Linked DNA regions of Homo sapiens: all the other regions are linked to region 2. The links come from fine-mapping of genetic effects on gene expression. A gene starts in region 2. Each other region holds a variant in brackets. All regions are shown on one strand. Distances are between the middles of the regions.

Region 1 (5,944 bases), 42 kb after region 2:
TCCCAATGCAAATGCTGACATCCATTTCCAAAAGAGTTGTTTTTTTGTGCTTTTTCTAAGGTTACAAAGGTTTTTGTGGTTTAAATGTTGTTACATATTTTACAGCATTAGGATCTATGGAATATTTTGACAACTGCAACAGTTCAATGAAGTTGGTAATTTCTTCTTTTAATTATTTTTCATTGAACAGCTTTGGAGTTACATTTCTACATTTTGATTTCTGGTATATTATAAGGAAAGAAAAAATTATGTCAAAGGATACTTTAGAGAAAATACATAGATAGTGATTACAATATGGCTGTAATTAAATTATCCTTAATCTTGTTGAAGTTTTGTTAGTGCCTAATTTTGATGAAATAGTATGGTGTTCCTTCCAGCTACTGATTGTATATATGTGATTGCACATCTTTCTTAAAAAAGTGGATTTGTAGGTTTTCACATATTGTCAGCCACACTCTAATCCTCTTGTAAAGAATGAACCTGGCTTTATTCAATTAAATAATTCTCTGGTACAGGTTTTCCTCCCATAATATTTTAAAGTACAATGTTTTGGGTTTTTTGAGGGTAAAGTAAAAGAAAATATGTTTTAAAAACTTTAGTTGTCAAATTATTTTATTTTAAGCCTATTTTAGAAATTAGAGATGTATTGTTTCTTTTGGGTGCATATCACCAATTAATACGTTTGATTTCAGATCTACAACTTACTGCTTTGTAAACTTCGCCGAGGTAAAATGAAACCATTTGGCTACTTGAACTGATCTACATTACATAGATTTTTCCTATTGACATTTGCAGTAGATAACATGTCAGAAATGAAAGTGATGAAACAATACATCTTCCATATTCTGAATTGGCATAATGCTAAATACAACAGAAGCTAATTTTTTAGAGACTGTGAAATATAATTTTTTTTAGTTCAAGTATATTATAGCAAGTGAGAGCTATTAAGAATAGAGCTTTCTCTGCAGTAGTAAAATGCAACCAGAATGTTTGCATATACTGGAATTAAAAGATTAGTTTTGCAACATAATTCATTTTTCTAACTCTGATATTAGTTTAAGGATTTAATAAAATATAAGTAGATTGTTCTTAATTGAAATATTTTATATATACTTAATTCTTTTCGAAGGGTGAAACTTTATTTTAAGTTTTTTTAAATATAAGATTAAATAAATAACACATTTTAGCAAATTATGTGCTGTCATGAAAGATAAGGGAATTCATGGTAACTTGTATTTAAAATTCTGTAACTTTGGGTTGGGTAAAGATATACTTAAAATAAAGCATTCCCTTTGTAATTCTAATGCATTCTCAACATATGGGTATTAAATAACATGAAAAAAAGTTTATATAAATGTTAAATTACTTTAGAACTATTTCCTAGATTTAAAAATACTAATGCAGTATATTATAATAGTAGCTTTGAAATTTTGATATTGGCTTGAAACTTAACTGTAGTGGTACCTATATTAACGTATTTATGTCTCTTATTTTTTTGCAGCAAGGAGTAAATAATGCTGAAAAATTTGACTATGTAAGTGCAACATGTCATTCAGTTTTCATGCCACATTCTCTATATATTTGTTTTTTGATTACTAATATTCCCTACTTTTGGTTTCTAGGTCATGCAGTTTTTGAATAAGATGGCTGGTAATGAATATGTTGGATTCAGTAATGCAACGTGAGTGTTTTAAATACTGTTTTGTTACGTAAAAACACACAACTGTATTTAGAATTGATCCACTCTCTTTTCATTGGAGGGAAATGAATGATTTCTAAATTACCTGACAGAAACACTTAAAAATACTTTAAATAGTTTTGACAAATTTCTTACAGGTAATCATACAATCAGAAGAGACCCCAAGTTTATCTCAAATTACTGGTGCTTATTCAGTTTTATCTTTGCTTGTAATACCTGTCTTACCTCTCTTCTATTTCTGTTCCAGGCTATCTGGATTTTTACCCCAATTTTTTATTTTAAAATTTGTGAGTCTATAGAAAAGTTGAAAAAATAAATATCTGGAATCTTTTACTTATATTTTCTAATATTTTGTCTTACTTGCTTTTTCTCAATCTCTGTCTCTTTAGATAGATAAAAAATATGTATGTATACCTCTAAACACAAATATGTAAATATATATGTACATAGATTTTTTTTCCCTAAACCATTTCAAATTAAGTTGCAGGCATCATACTTCACCCTTAGATAAGAAAGCACATACAGTCTAAGAATAAGGACATTCTCCTACATAACCACAATACCATTAACACATGTAAGAACGTTAACGTTAATTTTAAAATATCATGACATTAATCAATATGTAAATGTCCCCATCTCTTCCCCAAATGTCTTTTACAACTTTTATTATTATTTTTTAGATTCAGGAACAAATCAAGGTTCTTACATTGTATTTATTACGATGTCTGTTTTGTCTCTTTACTTAGAACAGTCCCCGTGCCCTTGCTTTCACAAATTTTATTAAATGGCTTTTATTTTTAAAGAGTGCAGGCTGCTTGTTTTATAGACCAGGGGTTGCTGACTTTTTCTTTGAAGGACCAGACAGTAAATATTTTAAGCTTGTGTACCATACGGTCTGTGTTGTAACTTCTCAGTTCTGCTGTTTAGTAGAAAACAGCCATAGACAATATGAGGGTGTGTTATAAAAAACTTTATAAAAACAGGCAGCAGGCCGTATAGTGGATGTTTCCCATTTTGTATTTGTCTGGTTCCTTGTCATTAGAAACACTATAATGTTAAACGTTATCGTAATATTATTATGTTAAACAGTTTTAGCATGTATACTACTATTTTATTCTTATTTTGCACTTCCTGCTTCGCATTTCAGGGGTAAACATTTTCAGGTTGCATGGCTTCCCAACATTAATTCATCAGCTTAAGTATCTTTTCCAGGAAGTATTCCATGAATCTCAACTTGCCTCTTTTCTGTGCTCTTCTGTTACCATATTTTATCAAACTTATTACATGTCTCTCTTTGCCCCATAACCACCATTAGACTCTGCCCTCCTTAAGACCTAGATGGAATGTTGTGTCTTCCAGTTCATTTCTGTATCCCTGTTATCTGGCAGATAATAGGCACTTGAGATAGTGTTGAAGAACTATGTGTCAGTCACTGTGATAACTGCTGACTAGTTAGTCATTTATCTAAACTATGTTGATGTTTTTTTTAAAAGTACGGCAAATTGATAAGAATTTGAAATGTTAAAATGTGCAATTAGAAGGGGCTGTCCACCTCAGTGATATAAAGAACATTAACCACAGTTCCTCTAATATCAGCAGCCCTTTTAGACTTGTAGGGCAATTCTCAAATATACCGCAAATTAAATCTGTCTAAATCAAAACTCATTCTCTTTCTTTCCAAACTGCTCTTTGCTCTAGAGATAGATCCCTGTATCAGTTAATATTATTATCCTCTCAGGCTATGTTAGAAATTCAGGCTTTGTATCAGTCTTTACTCTGCCTCTCCTTTTTCTCATCAGGTTGGAAGATTATCCAACTACTTGCATATTTG[A/T]TCATACCTCTCCTTCCATTCCTATCACAGCTGCCTAAATTCAGGCTTTTGTAGCTCTCATTACAGTATTCTCTTAATAGATCAGTCATCACTTCTTTTTCCCCTTTTTCAAACTGATGTCAGAGTTATCTTTCCAAAATGCAGATCTGATTAGGTAACTTCTTTGTAAGCCCTCAGGCTTTTGTTTTGTGGGTAGTCAGGAGCTATTAATTATTTGGCATCTATTGGTTTTGATAATTTGGTCCCAGTCTCCTTTGTTTGTTTGATGTTTTCCCACTCCTCTCCATGTGCCATTCCCCAGTTACATCAGAATATTTGCCATTCTTCAGTGGAGCCCTGTCTATATACTTTTCTAACCCGTTCATGATGCATGGAATTTGCCAGTGCCTAGGCCTCACCCTGAAATCTATTAGTCCATTGAGTCCTGCAAGATCCATTTTGTGTTTCCCACTCTCAGTGAAAGTTCCATGATTATGTCAAGTTCCCTGATTATGTCAATTAAAATGGACTCTTATTGTACTTTTGGGTAGCCAGAGGATTCTGCAGTTTTTCAGTGTATTTTAATGGTAGAAGATTTGAGAATTTTAAAATTAGCATTTTTGTTTACAAAATATGAAGACTAGAAAGGACCTGAATTCGTTTCAGTCATTTTATAGCCAAGAAAATGAAGATTGAAAGAATTACCACTTAAATGACTTGTCCAAAGTCACACAAATAGCCTATTGACAGAATTGATTGGAACTCTGTAGTCCTGAATCTTAGTTCAGTGTTCTTTATGCTGTACATTGCTATGCAAATGAAATTATGAACAATCACACTTTTAAAGAAAGTACATAGAGCAAATGTTTTTTTTTCTTCTTCCAGGTTTCAGTCTGAAAGAGAAAGTGGAGATCGAAATTTTGCAATAGGATATTACTTAAAAGAAAAGAAGGTTTTTAAATTTTTGTTTCTATTTCAAATTATTCTTTCATTTAATAAAATACATGAAGATGTATGCTAAGAATTCAACAATAGCCTTTAAGCAACTACCTATTACTATTTAAGGTGCAGAAGTTTTTGCAGAGTGCTCGTGAGTCAGTGTTATCAAATTGTTAATGTTATTGTTAATTTGATTTGTATCTGGCAGCATTTAAATATTTGACTCATATTATTTATTAATACAAATTTTGTTTGAGGTTTAGTCTATTTTTTCAAAAGCATGATGCCTGATTACTGTTAACTACTCTTGATTTTTTTAAGTGGCTGGTCTAGTAACTTGATTTATAAATCATGAATCATTTTATCATTGTCAGTTAAACTAGTATCTAGAAACTTACATGATGTGATAAAATTTTGCTTTTTTATTTCATGTTTATACTCTTTTAGAAGTTACATGCTATTTTATTAATTAAAATGAAACACTTGTGTACATTTGAAATTTTTCATATATTTCTCTACTTATGTGCATTCCTGTGTGCCTGAATTTTTAATTGCCTTTCTGGTTTTTTTAGTGTTTTCCAGAAGGCACAGACATGGTTGGTATATTAGACTTCTACTTCCAGGTAATCTAATTATGTAAATCGTATATATAAATGGATGTGTCGGCTGGGCACGGTGGCTCACGCCTGTAATCCCAGCACTTTGGGAGGCCAGGGCAGGTGGATCATGAGGTCAAGAGATAGAGGTCATCCTGGCCAACATGGTGAAACCCCATCTCTACTAAAAATACAAAAATTATTCGGGTGTGGTAGTGTGTGCCTGTAGTCCCAGTTACTTGTGAGGCTGAGGCAGGAGAATCCCTTGAACCTGGAAGGCCGAGGTTGCAGTGAGCCGAGATCACGCCACTGCATTCCAGCCTGGCGACACAGTGAGACTCCGTCTCAAAATAAATAAATGGATGTGTCACATTATGCAAAATATAGATGTCTCAGAAATCTTGGTTCTAGGCCATGAGAAAATACATTTTCCATTGACTTTCAAAAATGTCTTCATAAAAGGCAGTCTCATGTCCATGCATGTTGCCTAAAAATTCATGCCTCAAAATGTAATGGGGACAATTTTTTCTGTAAACATATTTAAGAATTGTCAAAAATAATGAACACTCCCAGAAATTGGCACTCTTAATTATAAACTGGGCTCTAAATTTTTCGTAGCTTTTACATTTTGTTTGGGAAAAGCTTTATTTTTTATTTTTTTATTTTTTAAATCAGAGGGCTCTTATTCAGCATTTAAAAGTGTCAGTGTCTCAGCTGACTTGGTATCTTGTAATTTCTTTGTTACTACTCTATCCTGGCTTAACTGGTGCTAGTTCATTTCTGCAGTGTCATATGTCGGGCTTTCTTGTAAGTTAGAGTAGCTCTCAATATTGAGGGGGTGGGGTTGAGCGAGAGGGACCGTGTTACGCACAATGGGCTATGGTATAGAACTCAATTTAG
Region 2 (5,944 bases):
TTTAGTTCTAGGTCAACAAATAATCTACTAGTTTTTGTGAAGGCGCAATCTGGAATTTCTATATATATATATTATTTTATCTTATTTTATTTTATTTTTTGAGATGTAGTATCGCTCTGTTGCCAGGCTGGAGTGCAGTGGTGCGATCTTGGCTCACTGTAACCTCGGCCTCCCAGGTTTGAGTGATTCTCCTGCCTCAGCCTCCCAAGTAGCTGGGATTACAGGTGTGTGCCACCACGCCCAGCTAATCGTTGTATTTTTAGTAGAGATGGGGTTTAACCGTGTTAGCCAGGATGGTCTCAATCTCCTGACCTTGTGATCTGCTCGCCTCAGCCTCCCAAAGTGCTGGGATTACAGGTGTGAGTCCACCGCGCCCGGCCTATATATGGATTTTATTATGATCTTGAAACATTAGCCTTTTGTAATCTTCGACAGAACAAAGAAGCTCAGGAACATAGAAGCACAGGAACCTTTCTTCAAGTTAGAACAGACACAAAGTGCACAAATTCCAATTATTCCTTTTGATGGCTGATTACCTGATGATGGCTATGGGACAGCAACTCTTTGTAGTGTAGCTGCACTTAGGAGCAAAAAGGAAGTCGAAGAGTAGATCTGACAACCCAACCATAGTTAATGTGGAGAGCATTTTTCTATTTGTAGATATTTTGGTGGACTACTTATTGTATGTATACAAATGTTTTTATACTTTTTACATGATGATTACATGAGTTTATGTAATGATATAATTCAATTTAACATAACTGAAACTTCAAAGTTGTGTAATGGTTACAAAGTTGTAGATAAAAATATCTTTAAAGATTAAAAAATTATATAAGATGAAGAAAAGAATCAAATGAAAGTATTGAGTCACATTTTTATTCTATTTATAATAGTTTCTTTGCTGTCTATAACCTTTTCATTAGCCTTCTCAAACAAGGGGTTAAATTTCAGTGGACTCAATTCTTCCAAATTTTGGGAGTAATATCTATCCATTCTCACCAAAAGCAGAAAGTCTGGAAACTACCAGAAAATAAAACTCTAGAAACTAGAAACTCTAGAAAATAATCTGTTACTAGGTTAGCTTTCTTATTTGTTAAGTGAACTATAAAGCCTTTAAACCTTTAAATATCTAAAACAATTTTCATAAGAAACTCAGAGAAATTAAGGGAGAAACTGAGAGGAAAACAGTAACTGGATTGTCAGTTGCTTTGTGTTGTTGAGAAAAAAGAGGCAGTTAAAATTGATAACTAATTGCAGCTAATATATTGGACAATATTAAAGTCTGCAAGTCATTAACAAGTCAGGGTTAGGCAGGGGTAATATTTGTTACCTTTCCTCTGAAACTTGATGTCTCTATTCCTGAATATATCATTACTTTGATTCATCAACATTTTTGGACAAGTAACATTAGTAATAAAAGCTATCTAAGTACTTTCCCATTGTCCTGCTTTTTTTTTTTTAAATAAAAAAGGTGACTATGTTTTACACATGATAGTTTTTTCCATGTTCTTCTGGTTAAAGAGCAGATAGAAAAAAAAAACTTAAAACACGGCAAGGCTGTAACATGCCAAAGGTCACATAACCTGTAGGTACAGCCAGATTTCCTAATTATTAATCTATTGAAATATTTTACAGTTCACTAGATTACTAAATCCGGTTATCAATTAATGATGCACCTGACATACACCCTTCTAGTTTCATAAAAATCACCTCATTAGGCCGGGCGTGGTGGCTCACGCCTGTAATCCCAGCAATTTGGGAGGCCCAGGGGGTGCAGATCCCTCGAAACCAGCCTGGGCAACCTGGCGAAACCCCGTCTCTACCAAAAATACAAAAAAAAAAAAAAAAAAAAGCAGGTGCTGGCTGAGGTGGGAGGATCACCGGGGCCCCTGAGTTCAAGGCTGCAGTAAGCCGTGATCGCGCCACTGCACTTCAGCCTGGGCGACAGAGTGAGACCCTTTCTCAAAACGAACACACACAACAACACAGTAACAACACACCAACCCCCAAAACATCTTATTAAACTCTGTGGATCTACTCCATTTAAACCTAATTGTTTCAGGAAATAGTCTAAAAACATTTTTTTGTCCTGGAATGTAATGTGTATGTAGCCTCAGGGAATAACTCAGTTTATCAGGTTCTTGGCTGTTTTTCCACAGGTCCAAAAGGATAAATGGATAAAGTGATGCTGAAATAACTTAGAGAACCCGTATTCCAACGCTTCTATTTTAAAACAGTGAAGCAGTTTTTAAAATAGAAAAGTATCTACAGTTTTGCTTTCAAGCAAATAGCGTTAACGGAATCATTGCTATTCAAAACTATTTTTGAAGTATCGGTGTACATTTAAAAAAAATAATTTTTAAAAAAGAAAGCTGTCGTATTCTGGATTCCGCAACCCCCCCACCCCGCCTCGCCACTCGTCGCCCTCCCTCCACCTCCACCCTCCCATGGCTTAAGTCGCATAGCTGAAAGGATTTTGCTCATTTTTTCCAAAACACTTCACGTCTGGGTAGTAGCCAATCATGGAAAGTTTCAAGCAAATGTTACATTTGGGAGAGGGATGAAGCTTGTCCGGGGCTGCTCTCGGAGGAGTCGCCAGACGCCCTGACCTGGGGGCCAGATGCGAGCTGGGATCGGCTGAGTTCCGACAGCTCGGCCAGACTCAGCCCTGCCAAACCTGCTGACCTCACTGCCCTCGGCTGCGGGGGATCTCGCCCATGAGTCTCCCCAACAGCTCGAATTCCCAGAGTGGAGGAGCCCACTGCTTCATAAATGCGAGAACCCAGAGCCCCTAGTACCCAACTAGGCTAGCCTCGGAGTTGGCACGGCGTGCAGAAAGTGGCTACTGAGCAGCCGGGCCTGGCTCACCCGCTTCACACGTCAGTTTGACTCCTCTCCCCGCCCCCCACCAATCCCCCGCCCTACTCTCCGCGCACCCAGAGCCGAGAGAAATTTGACTGCCCTAATCGCCAATCAAAAGAGAGGTCGAGGATTTGAGCCAATCGCAGCGGGCGAAAGGGGCGGGCCGTCGGCGAGCGCTGAAGGTCTCTAGCCCTCCCCTGCGCTTTAGCCTCAGTGCGGAGCCTTAGGCGGAGCGAAGAGAACCGGTCGCGGCAATCCTAGCGCGCAGCAGCAGCAGCAGCAGCAGCAGCAGCAGCAGCAGCAGCAGCAGCACCCGCATCCGCTGCGGGAGTCCGAGCCGGAACCACACCCAAGTAGCTGCCCTTTCCTCTTCTGTCATCTCACCGCCCCACCACAGACCGCGTTCCCCGAGGAAACCGGCCGCCCACGCCCGGAGCATCCTCCCCTGTTGAGCGGGCGCTGACGGACCCGGCGGCATGATGCGGCTGCGAGGCTCGGGGATGCTGCGGGACCTGCTCCTGCGGTCGCCCGCCGGCGTGAGCGCGACTCTGCGGCGGGCACAGCCCTTGGTCACCCTGTGCCGGCGTCCCCGAGGCGGGGGACGGCCGGCCGCGGGCCCGGCTGCCGCCGCGCGACTCCACCCGTGGTGGGGCGGGGGCGGCTGGCCGGCGGAGCCCCTCGCGCGGGGCCTGTCCAGCTCTCCTTCGGAGATCTTGCAGGAGCTGGGCAAGGGGAGCACGCATCCGCAGCCCGGGGTGTCGCCACCCGCTGCCCCGGCGGCGCCCGGCCCCAAGGACGGCCCCGGGGAGACGGACGCGTTTGGCAACAGCGAGGGCAAAGAGCTGGTGGCCTCAGGTGAAAAGTGAGTGTCTCCGCGAGGCGCAGGAGGCCTCGTTCCTTTCGGGGCCCGGGCTCAGGCTGTGTGGGGCCCTGCGGTGGGGCGGGATAGGAGCCGAGGGTCTAGAAAAGAGAAAGAAAGAGGTGCCGGGCGGCCTGCGCCGTCTGCGCCATGTGATTAGGCCCGGCCCCGCCCGCGCCTTCCCCGCCCGCAACCCTCCGCCAGGCACCCACTTCCCTTCTCCGCCCCCGGCGGGGGTCGCCCTGGTGGGGCCGCGGTGGGGCCTGATGGGCTCGCCTGGCGTCCCCAGCGCCAGAGAGGCCGCTCCCCTGCCCGCGCTGCGTGCTCAGCTCCCTGGCTTGCGGCTGCAGCGCCTGGCCGCCCGCCCCAGCCATTCGTGGGCGATGCTGCACGAACATCTCCACCGAGTGACATTTAGGAGTTGGGCGTTCAGCAGAGCCTTTACCTTCCTGACTTGTCGCTTTTCCTGGCTCGTTTCCGCTCTGCCTGCCCTCCCTTGGTTTCTGCCATCATCCGGTTGGAAGCCAGATGTGACAGAGAGCTCTTTATATTTCGGGAGTGGCTACCTCAGGCACGTGTAGAGCCATCTGGGGCACCGGAAACAATGTTTCAGAAGTGAGATTAGGAGGAATCCGGTCATGTGGCCGAGAAGATGGGGCACGCAGTATAGACCACCTGTTTGCATAAGGGACCAGCTTTGGCTTGTCAGGTCTTCCGTGAGATGGGGAGATTTTTAGAAATAAAAGTTAAATAGCCAAGATGAAATGTGACGTAATACACTAACTCAGTGAAAAATCTGAGTTGAGTAGGTTTTGTGACTTCATTGTGATAGGATGTTGACTCATCCTGTATGTGTACGGCACAGTAGTTTAGTCTTAAAGCAAAACTGGTTTTTCTTAAACAATATGCAAAGCAGTCTCCTATATATTTTTGTCTTGTGTAATACAAATGGACCACTTTGTTTTCCCAAAATGGGTAAAAATTTACGGATCTGCTTTCATTATACCTTACTCTTTTTCTGGCTTTGTACGCTGACACTCTAACCTGTTTTGCTTCCCTTTTATTTCTGCTGCTATTTCCAGCTCTAGAGTTCCTTAAGTCAAACTGAAAGTGAGAACATTGTTATAATTTCAATCTCACGCCTGCTTGATGTTTTCCTGTAATTGAAGTTGGGACCTTCCAGAAACTTTTCTAAAGTTCTTCTCCCAGACTGAAAAAGATTATTTGAAAAAAATCACTTGATGATGGGCGAAATTTGTGGTATTTTGTGATGTTGGTTTTGTGCCACAAAATAGCGTCCTGACCATGGACAGGTTATTTAATATCTTGGGTTAGATGACTTAAATCCTTTCAAGTTCTAAAAAGCTATACTTCTGTTAAATTTGTACTTCTCTCATGTTTTAGGGACTAGAATGATAATTTAATCTCATCTGGGACTCACTTTTACTTTAACATCATCCGGTTTACCAAGGAAGTAACGAGTTTACATGCAAGTGCCCAAGGTACAGAATTGCAAAATGCAGTCACAACCGTTTAAAAGTTCATCTTAAAGGCTACAAGATGGGAACTGCATTCTAGTAAAATTATGTCTTCAGGTCTGTGTCTCTGCAGTGGCTCTAGTGCCTCTCTTTTTTTTCCTCTTTTGTCAAACAGGAAATTGAGCTTCTTCTGTGATTCACTTGTCCAGAAGTTTCTGGTTTCATTGCCTTTTTAATAAAAAATCACCTTTTAGCAAGGGCCTCAAGGTTGTGAAGAAAGTTTTTTAATTTGGTTAAAGTTTCTATTTCCTTAATGATCTGGTTTCCAAATGTAGCTTTCCCTCTTTGGCTCCTTTCATTTTGCCTTTATGTGACAAACATTTCTCTTATCCTGGGAGGTAAGCTCCCAGTTGATCCTGTTATCCTTTCTAATGCTTAGCCTGCAAAGCATAGGTCATCCCTCAGTCAGCAGTCCACCTGGTATGCTAGCACTCACTCAGGACTGTGCCAGATTTTATGTAGTATTATTAAAAGAAATAACCATGAGAAAATTAAATTAACATTTTGTAAAAGGCTTAGAACAATATTTGGCGTGTGTTAAATGACACATAACTATTTATTAAATAAATGAGAAAACATTGCTTCTTCATTATTGTAAAGCCTGTTAAAGAGATTGGCCTTGGAATTTCAGGCTTGCACATGAAGGTTTTTAATTTTTTTAGTTTCCACAAAAATGTTTATCTTG
Region 3 (5,944 bases), 89 kb after region 2:
GGAAGGCATTAAAGGCAGAGACTGGGGGGTTTTATTTCTATTCTGGAGAATGAACCAGACTCCAGGCCTGTGTGCGCCCCCACTGTACCCCTTGCTTCCTTTCCAAATAGCCAATAAAAGGCTGCAATGAAGTGTGTCTGACAAGCAGTCCCAATGGCAAAAGAATATCAAGACTGTTTCAATTATGTAGAAGAAATGTGGAAAGGCTGCAAACAGACACTGACAGTAAGGTATTAAGGTGTTATAATAGCTTTATGAAATATTATAGGAGAATTCAGAGTTTGATAATAGGTATTTGACAGCTTTCTACCTCTTAGATAGCTTTCTGTTCTCTGTAGACTCAAGATAACGTTAATAAATAAGTTTAAGACTGCTTAAGTATGGCTCTGTTGTTTTTTCCTTTTTACAATAAATCAAGCAAGGTGTTTAATTTCTCAGTGAGTGTAGCAAACACATAAACCAAAGTGAGTTCACAAAAACTTGGAAGCTGAGGATTATCATTTAAGAGCAATATAAACTGATCTTAAAAAGCTCTAAAAGCAATATTGTCTTCAGCTTTCCTAAAACTGGTTTAAATGTCATTTCTTTGAAATTGTATTTTTTAAATATAACATTTACATTATTTGTAGCTTCTGGCTGTTTGTTTGCATCACAAAATCTTAAGTTTTAATAAGGTGACTGCACTAGAATGTATGATCCAGTGTCTCAGAATATCTTAAGTTCCATAAAAGCAGGGATCTTTGCTTTTGTTTACCAATGTTTCCCAAACATCTAGTATAATGCCTGGCTCATGGCAGGTGCTCTATATAAATCTGATGAATTAATTAATGAATGAATCATAACTAACCAAAGGAAGCCAGTCACATAAATGGTCCTTACTTTGTTAATGTCCCAATTCAAAAGGTAAGCAGAAGAGTTTTCAAAACACTTTCTAGCTTTTTCCTGTCCTTTCCCTGGGTTAGTCAGTGACAGGACTGCTCTGTTCAGAAAGACTTGCCTTCATATTCCACTTTAGCTTTCAGGCAATAAATAGATTTCACTCATTTCATGCCATCTCAGAAAACCCTCTTTCCTTTAAAATGAGACATTTGTCCCCAGTAGCACACATAAGCTCTATGCTTATAAAACACTTTTCAAACTTAGAAACACCACACGAGAAATACTCAAACACAAACAAATATCCCTTAAGTTAGGATCTACTCAGTGACTTCTTATAATGGTTAATTATGTAGAATACAAACTTACACTAGTTAGCCAGGGCATATTTACTTTACTCCTTGGAGAGAGACCACTCTCAGTGTTCACTATAAATAAGCTTTATATTTCCTAGATGTAAATACGAAGATATGGAGATGAGAATAATCATTCTGGTTATGATGCCAACATTCATTATCAGGGAATAACACTATTCCATGATAATAGCTAAATACAACTTGACAGACTATGCCTAACTTGGTAATTATGCCTCTTACCCTTTTTTCCCCAATACACAGTGTATTTTACTTTGAGAAGACCTGGCCTTCTAGCTTTTGACATCTTTGGAAAAAAATGGCAGCTTTTTTGTGGGTGCAATAACTTCTCAGTAATAACTCATCTAATCGTGGGGGTGTAGATTTTAGATGACTGCTTTGGAGACAAGACAAAGTCCCATTTCTCATGTATTTTAAAATTAAAAACTGCTAATTTGGGGGTATTAGCAATACCCAGATTCATTTTAAAATAAGTGCTGAATCATCTGTATATTTGGGGACAGCTGTGGTCGCAAAGAACCAAAATACTTTTGTTTGTTTGCTTTTTATGGCACCTATTACAGCTGTTGCCAATAATATTACTCCTCTGACCTCTTCCATTGACATGTCTTAATCTGCCATAGCAATTCTGAATATGTGTAGGGCAGGTAAGGACAACATTTAGGAAAATAGTGTTATTGATCTTATTTTAAAATAAGGATTGAGGTACATGAGAAAAGCATCAAACCAATTCATAACGTCAGTAATTTTAAGAATCTTTATATTAAATACTATTAATGAGAGATTAATAGAATTTTAGAATTTTAATACTTCTTAAAAGTAAAGTCTCTTGGCTAGTGCAGTAAAATGAAACCATGCCGAATTCCCAAAGGGCAAAAAGAACTGACAGCTAAACCTCAGCAATTAGAAACAATATTGTTTTAATGTTGTCTTCTTTGTTTTTTAGTCATTTCAATTGTAAAATCAACTGAAACTTAGGTTCTCGCCATCTATATAAAAACTGAGAGAGGAGGCCTCAGATTGTATGCAGTGCCACGGAAAGCACTGTGTGCATATTA[T/C]ATTTAATGCAATACAGATACTTTAGCTTTAATTTTAAAACAAAACTCAAGAAATCTTTATCTCCACCAAAGAAGAATACAGCATTTGCATGATAATATAGTTGTGGTAGCAGTAGTGGAAAAACAAGATACAGCCACATAGACAGCAGTATGTAAAAGGGAAGAACCTTGTCAAACCCATCTCTTAATCTACTTTTTGTGTCAGTGATAAGGAAGGAAAAAGGTAAAAATACAGTATACTTCACGAAACATCATCCACTCAAAAAAGTGTCTGGAAAAAGTACAGGAGAGAGAATGGAACCATTCGCAAATGTGAAAAACACATATATCAGCGAAACATATGCAGTTCTCAATGCAGTTACATAGGAAATGAGTTTTGAAATGATCTGATTCTCATATTATCTCTGGTGTATTATTCAAGTTGTCAGTTACTGCTTTTTCTACTCCTTTCCCAATTTTGTGGCTAATAGACTAAATACCACCCTAATAACAAAAAGGACAAAGTAGCCCATTTAAGAAACATGAATTAAATTTCTGAGTTTATCTACATCTATGGTTAATTTCAACTTTTGAATGAGTGGTTGTGAATAGCCTAACTCCCTTGGGAGAACTGTAAAAATAATTGTATGTGACCAAGATGAAAGCAGAATGTATTCAGCTTTGGATATCAAACACAACTTGTGAATTTGGAAATGTACATCCTTCTATTGATATTAGCTAGTGTCATTAAGCCATAACAAACAGTAAAGCTAATATTCTCTTCTCAAGAAACAGAATTTGTCTTTGTCTTTAAATAGCCAATGTGAAAGATGTAATAAAATACACATTTTCCCCCTACCAGATCCATGATGGCTACCTTTGAAAGAGGACTGATATAATTGTATATAAACTTGGCTTTGAACTATTTCACAGGTAAACCAATGGAAAACTGCCAGTTACACTTAAAGCAAAGAAAACATGTAAGAATTCTCCCACAGAAATTTACCGTTCCTACGTCAAGCAGTTCCCTAAATAACCACTGATTTATCCAACAACCTATAACAGTTGGGCACTGACTTTATGCATAACATTTGCTAGATGTTGCTTAACTTCTCCTTTCCCAAAGGACCCTCATTCTCGTCCTGATACTTTGGGTGTATCTGGATGTTTTTCACTTGTGAAACCCACTCTTCAGAGAATGCCTTTCAATTTTACCTTCAGTAAGATGCATGATGCCCTTCAGAGTAACTGATGTTTCTGAGTTAGAGAAAAATTCACTTGCTATCAACAGGTTGCAGCGAATTTGCTGGCCTTTCTTTCATTTCCCTAGAAACACAGGATGTGAAGGAACAGAGTAGCAGGAGGGAATCACAGATGAGAAGGAAAACTGTCGCCAGAGAAGATGAAAAAAATTCATGCTCTATACTGTGTTCATCTGTAAAAAGACAAAATGTGGTTAAGTTTATTACACTGATCTTGTGAAATGCAGACTCATACATTAAACATTGCTTGTCTATTCTAGAATGAAGTAGTAGGAAGATACTTGCAATGGCAAATAAATACCGTGGAATAAGAGGGCCTTCAGCATGTACTATGTATTATCCTGGGCTAATCAAGACCTTTTATATCACCTAAGCTGACGGATTATTACTCTGCTGCCCACTGGCTTAATTTTGTGAATCCATCCAGACTGCATAAAGCTTTTTGCTGTTATGCAAGTCTGGGGACAGAGCAACGTGTCAAATCTGCTCATGTGAAACGGGTGAGGAAATGCTGAGCCATATGCCAGAGGGAGAGAGGAAGGAGAGGGAAATGATACACTTCCCCTAAAGGCCACTCAGTGGGTAAAATCAATGACTGTGTTTCAGGTACAGACTAAAGAAGCAGAATTACTAAGAACCCCTTCACCTTCCCCACCAGTGCCTTCTGCCCAGCTGCCTTGACCAGGACAACTTATAGTAAGTAAACTGTTCATCCAAAGGATACTAGCCTGCCAGTGACTTCCTGTCTGACTTCCACACTGGTCTTTCCCCTTAGACCAGATGCTTTCAATCGAGGATGATTCTGTCCCCTGGCAATGGCTGAAGACATTGCTGATTGTCCCATCTGGCTGTGAGGGTGCATGTGCTTACTGGTATCTATTTGGTAGAAGCCAGAGGTGTTGCTGAACCTCCTACGAAGCACAGGAAAGCTCCCCACCCCACCAATCCCCAACAAATAATTCTGAAGCCCCGAATACCAGTAGCACCAAGACTGAGACACATGGCACTAGACTGGAAAGCCTCTGGAGAACTTTTTTTTAATCCCAAGTGCTCAATAGTGTGTGGTACATAGTGGGCTCTTAGGAAAATTATTTTGGATTGAAAAGCACAGTGAAAGTGTTGCCCCTATGTTTCAGTCTAGCTTATGTTTCTCTTTTCTTTTTCTTTCTTTTTTTTTTTCAAATTGGAGACGGAGTCTTCCTCTGTTGCCCAGACTGGAGTGCAGTGGCACCATCTTGGCTCACTGCAACCTCCACCTTCCAGGTTCAAGCGATCCTCCTGCCTCAGCCCCCCTAGTAGCTGGGATTACAGGCACACACCACCATGGCTGGCTAATTTTTGTATTTTTAGTAGAGATGGGGTTTCACCGTGTTGGCCAGGCTGGTCTCAAACTCCTGATCGCAGGTGATCCACCTGCCCCGGCCTCCCAAAATGTTGAGATTACAGGCGTGAGCCACCGCGCCCGGCCTGGCTGATGTTTCAAATGTGTGCTTAATAGGGTGGACCGTGGGGGTAAAGAGAGGGAGGGAGGGGGAGATAGATAGATAGAGGAAGAGAGGAAGCCCAGATTCAGATCCTGTCACTGCGTGACCAGGGCAAGTGGCTTAACCTCTCTAAATCTCAAAGTCTTCATCTATCAAAAGGGGATTAATAGTACCTAGCAGATAGGCTTGTTAAATTAGATGGCATACGTAAAATGTTTAGTATAGTAGACAGAAAGTAGTAGACAATTAATAGCTAGTCCTATCATTATGAGCTTTGGCTAAAGGCCTCTTGGAGAGTAGACTGGTTCTATTACAGTCCCAGAGGAAAACACTGATTACACAGGAAATCCAGACTAAACAAATGCCCAAGTCATACTGCAGAGAACACTGGTGCTCTGGCTCTCTTGGACAATTTCCTCAGGAGCCTATGGTCCTGTTGCTCCTGAGGCTGCACCAGGCGTTGGCCCCTGGTACCACCCTCTTTCAGAGCTGCAACCTCCAGACTTGGCAGAAGACAGCCAGCTTGGGGAGAGCTGCTTCTGTTTCAGAGTATACACTCTGATTCTAAGAGTAGATGCTGGATGGAAGTCATGGCCAAGGGGCAGGACAGCAAACCATTGTGAAGTCAACCCAATTTAGAGACTGATTCAACCGTTGTCTAACCAGTGCCGTGCCTATATTATGAACTCTTTTTCTTTTCTTTTCTTTTTTTTTTTTTATATTATAGCCTCTTTTAGCTCTTTAAGTCTTCTATGGGTTTAATGGGAGGCTTTAGTGGTGTATAGAGGGTGTGTGTGTGTGTGTGTGTGTGTGTGTGTGTGTGTGAAATGGATTTATTTTATTCTACAAATGAAATGAATAAAATCACCTGAAATGGAACGGAATGGCTACAGCGAGTGTCCAAAGACCAC

Evidence for each region. PIP is the estimated chance that this variant, and not a neighbour inherited with it, causes the effect. A credible set is the group of variants that fine-mapping cannot tell apart.
Region 1: its variant is the best candidate, but not a certain one, in a credible set for the expression of GLS in whole blood (INTERVAL, PIP 0.80).
Region 3: its variant is the best candidate, but not a certain one, in a credible set for the expression of GLS in skeletal muscle (GTEx, PIP 0.68).

Annotation. Positions count from the first base shown.
Region 1 is chr2:190,919,523-190,925,466 of GRCh38, forward strand. It overlaps GLS (glutaminase), which reads left to right. Exons shown (of 18, transcript NM_014905.5): 8 at 1,502-1,534; 9 at 1,623-1,681; 10 at 4,395-4,461; 11 at 5,021-5,071. Among named protein-coding and RNA genes, the nearest start is that of GLS, 42 kb to the left of the region's middle. The variant A/T (reference allele first, on the strand shown) is at 3,531.
Region 2 is chr2:190,877,747-190,883,690 of GRCh38, forward strand. GLS (glutaminase) reads left to right here and starts at 3,075. Exons shown (of 18, transcript NM_014905.5): 1 at 3,075-3,724. The coding sequence starts at 3,339. It overlaps LOC124906110 (a long non-coding RNA gene), which reads right to left and starts at 4,242. Exons shown (of 2, transcript XR_007087791.1): 1 at 4,167-4,242; 2 at 1-3,822. RefSeq lists enhancers at 2,463-2,602, 3,999-5,198, 4,363-4,552 and silencers at 2,873-3,132, 3,473-3,532, 3,583-3,672, 3,733-4,042.
Region 3 is chr2:190,966,996-190,972,939 of GRCh38, forward strand. It overlaps STAT1 (signal transducer and activator of transcription 1), which reads right to left. Exons shown (of 25, transcript NM_007315.4): 25 at 2,154-3,722. The coding sequence ends at 3,708. Among named protein-coding and RNA genes, the nearest start is that of STAT1, 44 kb to the right of the region's middle. The variant T/C (reference allele first, on the strand shown) is at 2,309.